2 separate regions of the Homo sapiens genome follow, and region 1 is linked to region 2. A link means that fine-mapping ties the variant in region 2 to the expression of a gene that starts in the linked region. Tissue or cell type: whole blood. Region 2 holds a variant in brackets; the other region holds the start of a gene. All regions are shown on one strand. Distances are from middle to middle. Region 1 holds the start of IRS2 (insulin receptor substrate 2). Region 2 overlaps LINC00676 (long intergenic non-protein coding RNA 676).

Region 1 (5,362 bases), 56 kb before region 2:
GTAACATATTTTTAAATCTCTACACTTTTATATAATTGATTCTTTCTTGAAAAGTAATTATTTCAGAAGACTTCTAATAAAATAATCATTATTGTATATGATTCTGTTAAAAATAGAAAAAACAAACAAACAGAAAAAACTCCCTGCTGAAAGATATGGCCATTTTATTAGCTGTGAAAGGAAAGAAAGCTTCCAAGGAAAGATCTTGGACCATGAGAAAAAATTTCAACCAGGCTGTTTGCTGGCAAGAGGCCATGCCAGCCCCAGCCAGTCCTGCGTGCAGAGCATGTTGGCAGATGTTATTAGCTGACTTTTGTTGAAAAAGTATGGAAGAACAGTTGGAAAATCACAAGGTGTAGAACAAGCTTTAAATAAATAAATAGCTTATCTGGCAATAGAAAGGGGGAAAGAAAACAAGTTCCTCGGTTGAGGAAGAGGACTGGGATACTTCTAATTACAGAGTTTCTTACTGTTGGTTTGTTTCATGGGCTGACTCTCAATGAGAATTGAAATTGTATCATCCACATTTGTATTTGGAGGTTCTAACTGCAGAATTGCAATTAATTTCCAGTTTGCTGTAGGAAATTTATACTCTCTATGACAGAATACCACGGACATAGGTGATAATTCTTTAACCTTCTCTCTTTTGTCCCCAGTCTGGTAACTGAGGCAGTACATGGGGAAAGTGCTAACTGCCAATCCAGAGCTGCTGACACCTTAAAAACACTGGCCTTTAACACTAGGATGGCCCCAAGAAACAAGCAAACAGGAAAAGATGACACCTGCTAGCGTGTGACAGGCACAGCAAGTAAATGTTCAATACGGATATGAAAATGCAACTGCATAATAAAAGTCAACATGAAAAAGAAAAAGATTGCAAAATATACTTTCTCAGAAGAAACCATCACATGATGTTTAAAAGTGGTGGTTCCTTTAGCATTGTCTACTGATGGCTGGCAACATACAGGAACATAGAGGTGGCCCATTTACATCCTCATAAAAGTGGGATGTAAGTGATCACAAAGCCAATAAAACTACACCACATTTTCTTCAAGCACCAAGATAAGAATCCCTTCATCTTTCCTGACTAGACATATTGCTAGGCAACATTTGTGAACGTAAGAAAAGGTAACAAGATCTAAAAAGAACGCCGAAGCATAATGTTCATAAAGGTGGCGCCCCCAACACACACAATCATACACACATACCTATACACACACAATCACACAATCTATTATATAAACAAACACGCACACATGCACACATAGGTGCACAGACTTAAAATGGCATTTCTTGAGGTATTTTTTTTTAAGGTATGATTTAAAAATGGAAGATCAACTTTAAACACACCTTTTTGAGGCACACTGGGTGATATTTGCCACAATGATTATTCTTCCCAAATTCAGGCTACTGATCAATAATCCTAACTGTATACATGCTAAAAATAAAAACGCTATAATCTTTGTACTAGTCAGGGCTCTCTTGGCACATAAAATTAGCCAACACAATCTTCAAGTCACATGTTACAAAAACATATTAAAATATATATCACTCTTTCAAAAATTACACTTATTTTCTCTTAGATTAAGATTTTATTACTTTTAAGATACTTCTATGAATTATAGAGGACATCCAAAAGTAAACATCCGGGACTTAAAAACAATAACCAATATTATAAGATAAATTATTGCTGTAAATTATTTCATGAAGGCACAATTAAAAAAAAAATAAAATAAACAGCCAAAGCCTGTTTTGTTGAGTTTTCTTCGTTGCGCAGGATCGGGAGCTTGCTGGGATCTGAACTCAGGAAGCCCTCACCTCACCCTGACTTGGTCATTGAGGAGACGTAATTGCAGGGGTGCTTATTTGCTATAGGCTTTGAAAGTCACAAAAGCCCAGTAGATACATGAATTCGAAGCAGTTCTCCAAGGGCATCTCCAACTTGGCAGTCACCGCCCGCACCGCGCACACAGGTAGTGGACGCCCGCCCACCTGCCCGTCTGCTGGGCGCAGGGCGCTCCTGGGGTGGGGAGGGCGCTCCTGTGGGGGGAAAAGGGGCGCTCCTGCCTCGGAGGGGGAAAGGACGCCCCTGTGGAAGGAAGGGGGGGCTCTTGAAGCGGTGTGGTGAGAGGACGCTTCCGAGGAAGGAAGGGGGTGCTCCTGCAGCGGTGGGGGGAGAGGACGCCCCTGCGGAAGGAAGGCGGCGCTCCTGCGGGGGCTGGAGAGACGCCCGCGCGGTCTCCCGGCTCAGGGACCGCTGGCTCGCGGGTCCGCCCTCTCCCCGGCGCTATGGAAACCGCACTTTCTCCGCCTGCCGTCCCCGATCTCTTTCTCCTATTACCTCCCAAACGCGATTTCAACTTCCCGACAAGCTGACAAGTGAATGGCGCAGAGGACGCCCCGTAAAGCGCCCGCGAGCGGGTGGGACACAGGCGCCCCCTCCGCGCCCCTCTGTCCTCCACGGAAGGGCGCGCGCCGCTCTCGATCTGGAGCGCGGTGCTCGCGAACCCGCGGCCGCGGGCCCTGGAACCTCCCCGCGTTTCGCGGCTGCGGGGGGACGGAGATGCGGCCGGGAGACGGGGACGGGAAACGGGGGACGGGGATGGGGCGCGCCCACCCCGAGCGCGGGAGCGGCCGCCCTCGCCCAAAATGGGGACCCCGCGCCCCGAGAGCACGGCCCGGCTCGCCGCCCATGCTTCCACTGCAAGGCCGCAGCCCCCGCCGCCGATCCCGATCCCCCGCCCCGCCCAGCCGCGGCCCCGCCCGGCGCCCCCTCCCCGGCGGAAGCTCAAGCCCAATTAATTGAGTCCGAGGCGGGAGGGAAGGGCCCTGCGCGCCGTGGCCCGCCCCGCCCCTCTTCCGCGCCCCTTTTCCCGCCCTGGGTGGCATCTCCTCCGCCGGCATCCACAACAAGCCGCTGATTAATGAGGCCGGGGCCGCCCCACCCCGCCCGGCCGGGCCGGGGCCTTCGCGGGAGGGGGAGGGGACGGCGGGAAACGCGGCCCGGGGAGAAAGGGGGGCGGGGCGGGGGCGCGCGGCCCGCCCCCGCGAGCGCCGCGCCGATTGGCCGAGCGCGCCGTCCGTCGGGGGGCGCGGCGCCAATGCGAGGCAGCGGGGCGGGGCGGCCGCGCTGTGTGTGCCTGCGTAACGCCGAGTCACATGTTGTTTTGCTCTTCTTAGTTCAGTCACTCGGTGCGCGATGTGTTACTCACTGTGCGGCGGGGACCGCGACGAGCCCGGGTCGCCGTTGGCAGCAGCAGCAGCAACACCAGCAGCAGCAGCAGCCCCGGCGGCGGCGCGGACCCCGAGCGCCCGGGCGCACCCCGGCTTCCCGGAGCGCGACGCGGCGGCAGCAGCCCCGGTGCGGCCGCGCGCGCCTTAGGCTCGGCCCCGCGGCTCGGGGACCCCGACTCCCGGCCCAGCGAGCGCGTCCCCCGGCGCCGCCCGAGAGCCCGAGGAGGCAGCGGCCGCAGGCAGCCGGGGAGGGGGGCGGCCACCGCCCGCGCCGGGCATCCTCAGGAGCCCCAGAGCGCGGAGGGCGCGGCGCCGCCGAGCGGTGCTGGCCCCCGCGGGCCTCCCCGGACCTTCCCCACCGCCTGGGCCCGAGGGACGCGTGATCGGGCGGGCGGCCGGGCGCAAGGGTGGGAGGGAGCCGCCCCCGCCCGCGCCCCCTCCGCCCCTCGCCCCAACCCCTGGGCGCCGGGCCCGGGCCGCGCGGCCTGAAGCGCCCGCGATGGCGAGCCCGCCGCGGCACGGGCCGCCCGGGCCGGCGAGCGGAGACGGCCCCAACCTCAACAACAACAACAACAACAACAACCACAGCGTGCGCAAGTGCGGCTACCTGCGCAAGCAGAAGCATGGCCACAAGCGCTTCTTCGTGCTGCGCGGACCCGGCGCGGGCGGCGACGAGGCGACGGCGGGCGGGGGGTCGGCGCCGCAACCGCCGCGGCTCGAGTACTACGAGAGCGAGAAAAAGTGGCGGAGCAAGGCAGGCGCGCCGAAACGGGTGATCGCTCTCGACTGCTGCCTGAACATCAACAAGCGCGCCGACGCCAAGCACAAGTACCTGATCGCCCTCTACACCAAGGACGAGTACTTCGCCGTGGCCGCCGAGAACGAGCAGGAGCAGGAGGGCTGGTACCGCGCGCTCACCGACCTGGTCAGCGAGGGCCGCGCGGCCGCCGGAGACGCGCCCCCCGCCGCCGCGCCCGCCGCGTCCTGCAGCGCCTCCCTGCCCGGCGCCCTGGGCGGCTCTGCCGGCGCCGCCGGGGCCGAGGACAGCTACGGGCTGGTGGCTCCCGCCACGGCCGCCTACCGTGAGGTGTGGCAGGTGAACCTGAAGCCCAAGGGTCTGGGCCAGAGCAAGAACCTGACGGGGGTGTACCGTCTGTGCCTGTCTGCGCGCACCATCGGCTTCGTGAAGCTCAACTGCGAGCAGCCGTCGGTGACGCTGCAGCTCATGAACATCCGCCGCTGCGGCCACTCGGACAGCTTCTTCTTCATCGAGGTGGGCCGCTCGGCCGTCACAGGCCCCGGCGAGCTGTGGATGCAGGCGGACGACTCGGTGGTGGCGCAGAACATCCACGAGACCATCCTGGAGGCCATGAAGGCGCTCAAGGAGCTCTTCGAGTTCCGGCCGCGCAGTAAGAGCCAATCGTCGGGGTCGTCGGCCACGCACCCCATCAGCGTCCCCGGCGCGCGCCGCCACCACCACCTGGTCAACCTGCCCCCCAGCCAGACGGGCCTGGTGCGCCGCTCGCGCACCGACAGCCTGGCCGCCACCCCGCCGGCGGCCAAGTGCAGCTCGTGCCGGGTGCGCACCGCCAGCGAGGGCGACGGCGGCGCGGCGGCGGGAGCGGCGGCCGCGGGCGCCAGGCCGGTGTCGGTGGCTGGGAGCCCCCTGAGCCCCGGGCCGGTGCGCGCGCCCCTGAGCCGCTCGCACACCCTGAGCGGCGGCTGCGGCGGCCGCGGGAGCAAGGTGGCGCTGCTGCCGGCAGGGGGCGCGCTGCAACACAGCCGCTCCATGTCCATGCCCGTGGCGCACTCGCCGCCCGCCGCCACCAGCCCCGGCTCCCTGTCGTCCAGCAGCGGCCACGGCTCGGGCTCCTACCCGCCGCCGCCCGGCCCGCACCCGCCTCTGCCGCATCCGCTGCACCACGGCCCCGGCCAGCGGCCCTCCAGCGGCAGCGCCTCCGCCTCGGGCTCCCCCAGCGACCCCGGCTTCATGTCCCTGGACGAGTACGGCTCCAGCCCAGGCGACCTGCGCGCCTTCTGCAGCCACCGAAGCAACACGCCCGAGTCCATCGCGGAGACGCCCCCGGCCCGAGACGGCGGCGGCGGCGGTGAGTTCTACGGGTACATG
Region 2 (5,363 bases):
CAGATGTGCCACAGCCTTAGGCCGCTTCAAAGTCTAACCACGTCCTGAAAACCTTCTGGTTTGGTTCCCAGCTCCTGCTCCGATCTCGCCTCTATTTGAAAACCACCATCCCCACATCGGCCACCTCTCAGTCACCCCATCCTCTGGCTCACCCCCGAGACCGCTGCCAATTGGGGGGACCCGTCCATAGCACGGATGGCGCTGCTTCCGGCACCTGCGCCGCCCGAGGGTCTCCTGGCCATGGCCTGGGGGTGCCACGCAGCCGTGGCCACCGCATCCTCCCTCAGTGCTCCCCACGGCTCTCAATGCGCTCCCCAAGTGCTGACCACGCGCGCCCCCACGGCTCCCCGACAGCTCCGCCACGCCCTCCCCACGGCTCTCCACGCTCTCCCCAAGTCCCCAACGGCTCCCCCAAGCGCTGCCCACGCTCCCCCACGACTCCCCCACTCCCTCTCCACGTGCTCCCCACGTGCTCAGAGGAGCCTGGACAGGTGGATCCGGGTTGCCCCGGGGACTCATTCAGGGGTGAGCACACCTTGTACTTTTCCCTCGTTGTTTCCCTCCTTCCCCTCCTGGAAATGCCTCCTGCGGAAACCACTCAAACCCTTGTCTCAGGACCATGGCAGGGGTCTCCTTTCTTACAGGGCTGGCTGCTTCCTCAGTCAAGGCTTCTTTGGCTATTTACTTATCTAAAATGAAAACTCCAGCCATATTCTCAGTATTTCATAGCCTCCTTTTCCATGTTGTTCTCATTCTTTAAAGTACTACCTATTTCACCTACTTGTAGTGTTCTCTGTATCCCTCTCCTACCAGAATGTGACATGGACGGTAATGTCAGCCTTCTTCACTCCTGGTTAAGCAGACTTGAGAAAAGGGCCTGGCATACAGTAGGCATTCAGTAAATGCTTTGTGACTCTGTCGAGAGGTGACAGCATGCTGGCAGCCCTCACAGGCCTTGCTCGCTCTCGGTGCCTCCTCGGCCTCGGCGCCCATTCTGGCCGCGCTTGAGGAGCGCTTCAGCCCGCCGCTGCACTGTGGGAGCCCCCTCCTGGGATGGCTGAGGCAGGAGCCGGCTCCCTCAGCCTGCGGGGAGGTGTGGAGGGAGAGGCACGGGCGGGAACCAGGGCTGGGAGCGGCGCTTGCGGGCCAGCTAGAGTTCCGGGTGGGCGTGGGCTTGGCGGGCCCCGCACTCGGAGCGGCCGGGCAGTGAGGGGCTTAGCACCCGAGCCAGCAGCTGCGGAGGGTGCGCCAGGTCCCCCAGCAGTGCCGGCCCACCGGCGCTGCGCTCGATTTCTCGCCGGGCCTTAGCTGCCTCCCCGCAGGGCAGGGCTCGGGACCTGCAGCCCGCCATGCCTGAGCCTGCCCCCGCACCCCCGCCGTGGGCTCCTGGCGGCCCGAGCCTCCCCTATGAGCGCCGCCCCCTGCTCCACGGCGCCCAGTCCCAACAACCGCCCAAGGGCTGAGGAGTGCGGGCGCACAGCGTGGGACTGGCAGACAGCTCCACCTGCAGCCCCCGGGCGGGATCCACTGAGTGAAGCCAGCTGGGCTCTTGAGTCTGGTGGGGACTTGGAGAATCTTTATGTCTAGCTAAGGGATTGTAAATACACCAATCAGCACTCTGTATCTAGCTCAAGGTTTGTAAATGCACCAATCAGCACTCTGTGTCTAGCTGATCTGGTGGGGACTTGGAGAACATTTATGTCTAGCTAAGGGATTGTGAATACACCAATCAGCACTCTGTATCTAGCTCAAGGTTTGTAAATGCACCAATCAGCACCCTGTGTCTAGCTAATCTGGTGGGGACTTGGAGAACCTTTGTGTCTAGCTCAGGATTGTAAACGCACCAATCAGCACCCTGTCAAAACAGACCAATCAGCTCTCTGTAAAACAGACCAATCAGCTCTCTGTAAAATGGGCCAATCAGCAGGATGTGGGTGGAGCCAGATAAGGGAAGAAAAGCAGGCTCTCCGAGCTAGCGGTGGCAATCTGTTAGGGTTTGTGTCTGTCGTGTGGAAGCTTTGTTCATTCGTCTTTTGCAATAAATCTTGCTACTGCTCAGTCTTTGGGTCCACACTGCTTTTATGAGCTGTAGCAGTCACCACGAAGGTCTGCAGCTGCACTCCTGAGGCTAGCGAGACCA[C/T]GAACCCACCGGGAGGAGCGAACGACTCCAGACGCGCTGACTTAAGAGCTGTAACAGCTTACCGCTAAGGTCTGCAGCTTCACTCCTGAGCCAGAGAGACCAGGAACCCACCTAGAAGGAACAAACTCCGGACATGCCGCCTTTAAGAGCTGTAACACTCACCGCCAGGGTCCGCAGCTGCATTCTTGAAGTCAGTGAGACCAAGAACCCACCAATTCCAGACACACTGTCATCAAAAAGTGGGATATCTTTTTAAACAGAGATAACATTGCAGAATCTTGGAGTTGGAAATAGACCTCAGCTGGGGTTTAGTCCTGTTTTCTCCTCAGAGCAGAAGTCCTGGGATGCCGTTCTGGACTGATTGTCAGTTTTTTCTCCTGTCCTTGAGCTATTCTAATGCCAGACATCTGTGGCTTTACACAGCCAGGCTTTCAGTTAGAGAACTTGGTTAGCTCAGGTCAACAAATGCTGCTCTGAGAACACTGACTCCCATGTGGGGAGACTCTGCACCTGGAGCTCCGGGAGAGCCGGCTCAGGCCTCTTCCTGCTATCCAGGGAACTGCAGTGGCGTTGGAGGGCCTTGCTGGGGCTGGGGCTGGGGAGAAGGGATTCCAACCCTACTGATAATTCGTTTGGAAACACCGGGCTGTGGATTTCAGAAGTTCTTGGGCAGCCTGATTACCACTGGCAGTGAGCCGGGGACGAAGCCGAAGCTATGAGTGACAGACGGAAAGAACTGGGGGCTTTGGTGAACCAGAGAACACTTAGCTCCTCCAGCCCTGAAGCAGGCGTCACCGCAGGGCTTATGGTCCTAAGAGCCACTTAGTTTCCTTATTCATTAAACTAGTTTAATTTGGGTTTTCTGCATCCTGGAGGACACCAAGTCGGTGTGCGGAGGGACCCTGTAGACACGTGTGCAAAGAATAAGCCGACGATCATGGAATTTCTGATGACGCCACTGACACGTGGGATGGAGGCCTCCTTCCCAGGGCACCCCTACACTCATGACAATGAATCCTGGCTCTTATTCACCCCTTTGGATTTCACAAGCAAGTAGTAAGTAGAAAAATAGTTTCATTTTATTTTCAGTACATCAACTGAATGTGCTAATACTTGTATCCACTTCCACATGTAAGAACTCTGTTACATAAATTTGAGAATAATCTGCTCTTTGCTATTTTGACTTTATTTTCACTGCAGATTACCAATTGTCCCTACAATTTGCGTTTTATAGTTTACATCATCGTACACTTGATTTTATAGGGAACAAAAGGTTCTCAATAATTACAAAGAAATGTGTTGATTTAACATACTCCAAGAATCTCATGAACACAGTCCAAATAATAATTCAAAATTGAAGGTGGTATATTGGGCTAAAGTGTCCAGCAACTAAGGAACTAACGATGACTTAACTTTTATTGTCTTGGGTCACAGACACATAAAATTGACTAGAAAATTAATCCTGGTATATCTTTTGTATCTTCAACATCACTATGAATATTCTACTTTTTAAGTGACATGGAAACATTCAAATTGAGACATGGAGTCTGAGAGTGACACGGGCTGCTGGAGTCCACACCCTGTTGACCAAATCCACACCTTTGGTGGCCAGCTCCGTTTTGGTTTTCAAACTTTAAGCTCCATTGTATCCCCAAAATATATGAATGAAAACAAATCAATTTATTTATTTTCATTTTAGTTATTTATTTGAGACAGGGTCTTGCTCTGTCGCCCAGGCTGGAGTGGGTTGTTGTGATCTCGCCTCATTGCAACTTCCATCTCCTGGGTTTAAGCGATTCTCCTGCCTCAGCCTCCTGAGTAGCTGAGATTACAGGCACGGACCACCTTGCCCGGCTAATTTTTGTACTTTAGTAGAGAGAGGGTTTTGCAATGTTGGCCAGGCTTGTCTGGAACTCCTGACCTCAAGTAATCCTCCTGCCTCAGCCTCCTAAAGTGCTGGGATTACAGGCGTGAGCCACCACACCCGGCCCAAGTCAACGTATTTATAATATGTGAATTGTTTGCACACCTATTTCAAGCACTGGAAAAGAAAAAAAAGAAAAGAAACAGGTCCATGAATGAGGTAAGCAGAGTTGGACCCAAATACTTCAATGCCTTCTCAACAATTTCTTCTAAATGGCTTCCCGAAATTAGCTCTGCACGACCTATCTTTCTTGGGGGGTGGGGAAGCGATTACTTTTTAAAAGCCACATTAAAGTGTGTGTTCTATATCACGATGGCAGTTAAGGGAGGGGAGGCGTCTACAGCTGACCTGGGGAAGTTTTAATCATTGAACTATGCACAAGTGGGGCCGGGGCGGGAAGCGGCAGGAAAATGAGGCACCTTCTGCAGAACCTAGCCAGCCTGCAGGCGTTCCTGATCTGAGGAAAACACTTTAATTAATATGTAAAACAGCAGTGGGGAGAAAAGCAAGGTTAATTTCCAAACCACATCACTACCAGCGGTATTTGGGTTATGAAACCTTGGGAAACTTCTAGGAGATCCTGTTTGAAGGCACAGAGGTGCTTTTGTGTGTGAGTAGCTTCTGAGATGCTCAAAAGCTCTTTTATCTGCCCCCTGCAGTGGTATTGCTCTTTCTGTGTTTAAAAACACTGCCTTTGACTGGCAGGCTTTTGTTTTTAATTTGCAGTGCATCCTCCATTTTTGTTTGGAACTTGCCTGAAAGCAGCGTTTAGGGGAGAGAGAGCTGTTTGATTTCCTTTGTTGCGGCTTTCTTAGCTGCTGGCTACCTTTGGAATGTGTGACACAGGCGTCTCTCCTGGTTAGGAAAATGTTCTGTACTTGCCTGGGGTGAGACTGTAGCTCATTTCCTGGGTTGAGATCTAAAATCCTGAGCAGAGTTAAGTGTATCAAATAGTGGCTGTGCCAAGGATCAGTGTCTGGTGGAGACAGCGGATTTTCCAAGGTCATGGAAGTGAAGAAACAGCTGACAAGTCTTTCCCTAGCTTGAGCAGAAACAGCTCCATTCAGTGCGTGAACAATTAACTCAATTAGAGAATGTGCAGCTTTCTAAAGACGCGTCCACTGTGAGTGCGTGTGCCTGCGTTTCCTGCCTCCCTCTCCTCACAGACACCTCAAAAGCAACATATCTGAAAAGTCCTCTTAGCTACCCTGTCTAGGAGAAGTCAGAGGCTTGAGGACGATACTGTGTTCCTCCCACCGCTTGGTATCCCACCAACACCCGCTCCTGGCCATTAGACAC

The links.
Region 1: IRS2 starts here. The variant in region 2 is fine-mapped to the expression of IRS2 in whole blood (TOPMed, PIP above 0.99).

The regions. Positions count from the first base shown.
Region 1 is chr13:109,784,425-109,789,786 of GRCh38, reverse strand. IRS2 (insulin receptor substrate 2) reads left to right here and starts at 3,204. Exons shown (of 2, transcript NM_003749.3): 1 at 3,204-5,362. The coding sequence starts at 3,734. It overlaps LOC124903211 (WAS/WASL-interacting protein family member 1-like), which reads right to left and starts at 2,703. Exons shown (of 2, transcript XM_047430835.1): 1 at 2,342-2,703; 2 at 1-2,187. The coding sequence starts at 2,694. The coding sequence ends at 1,950. RefSeq lists silencers at 2,807-2,976, 2,997-3,226 and an enhancer at 4,068-4,697.
Region 2 is chr13:109,728,776-109,734,138 of GRCh38, reverse strand. LINC00676 (long intergenic non-protein coding RNA 676) reads right to left here. Exons shown (of 3, transcript NR_103846.1): 2 at 4,947-5,106; 3 at 4,105-4,181. Among named protein-coding and RNA genes, the nearest start is that of LINC00676, 3.2 kb to the right of the region's middle. RefSeq lists an enhancer at 316-817. The variant C/T (reference allele first, on the strand shown) is at 2,141.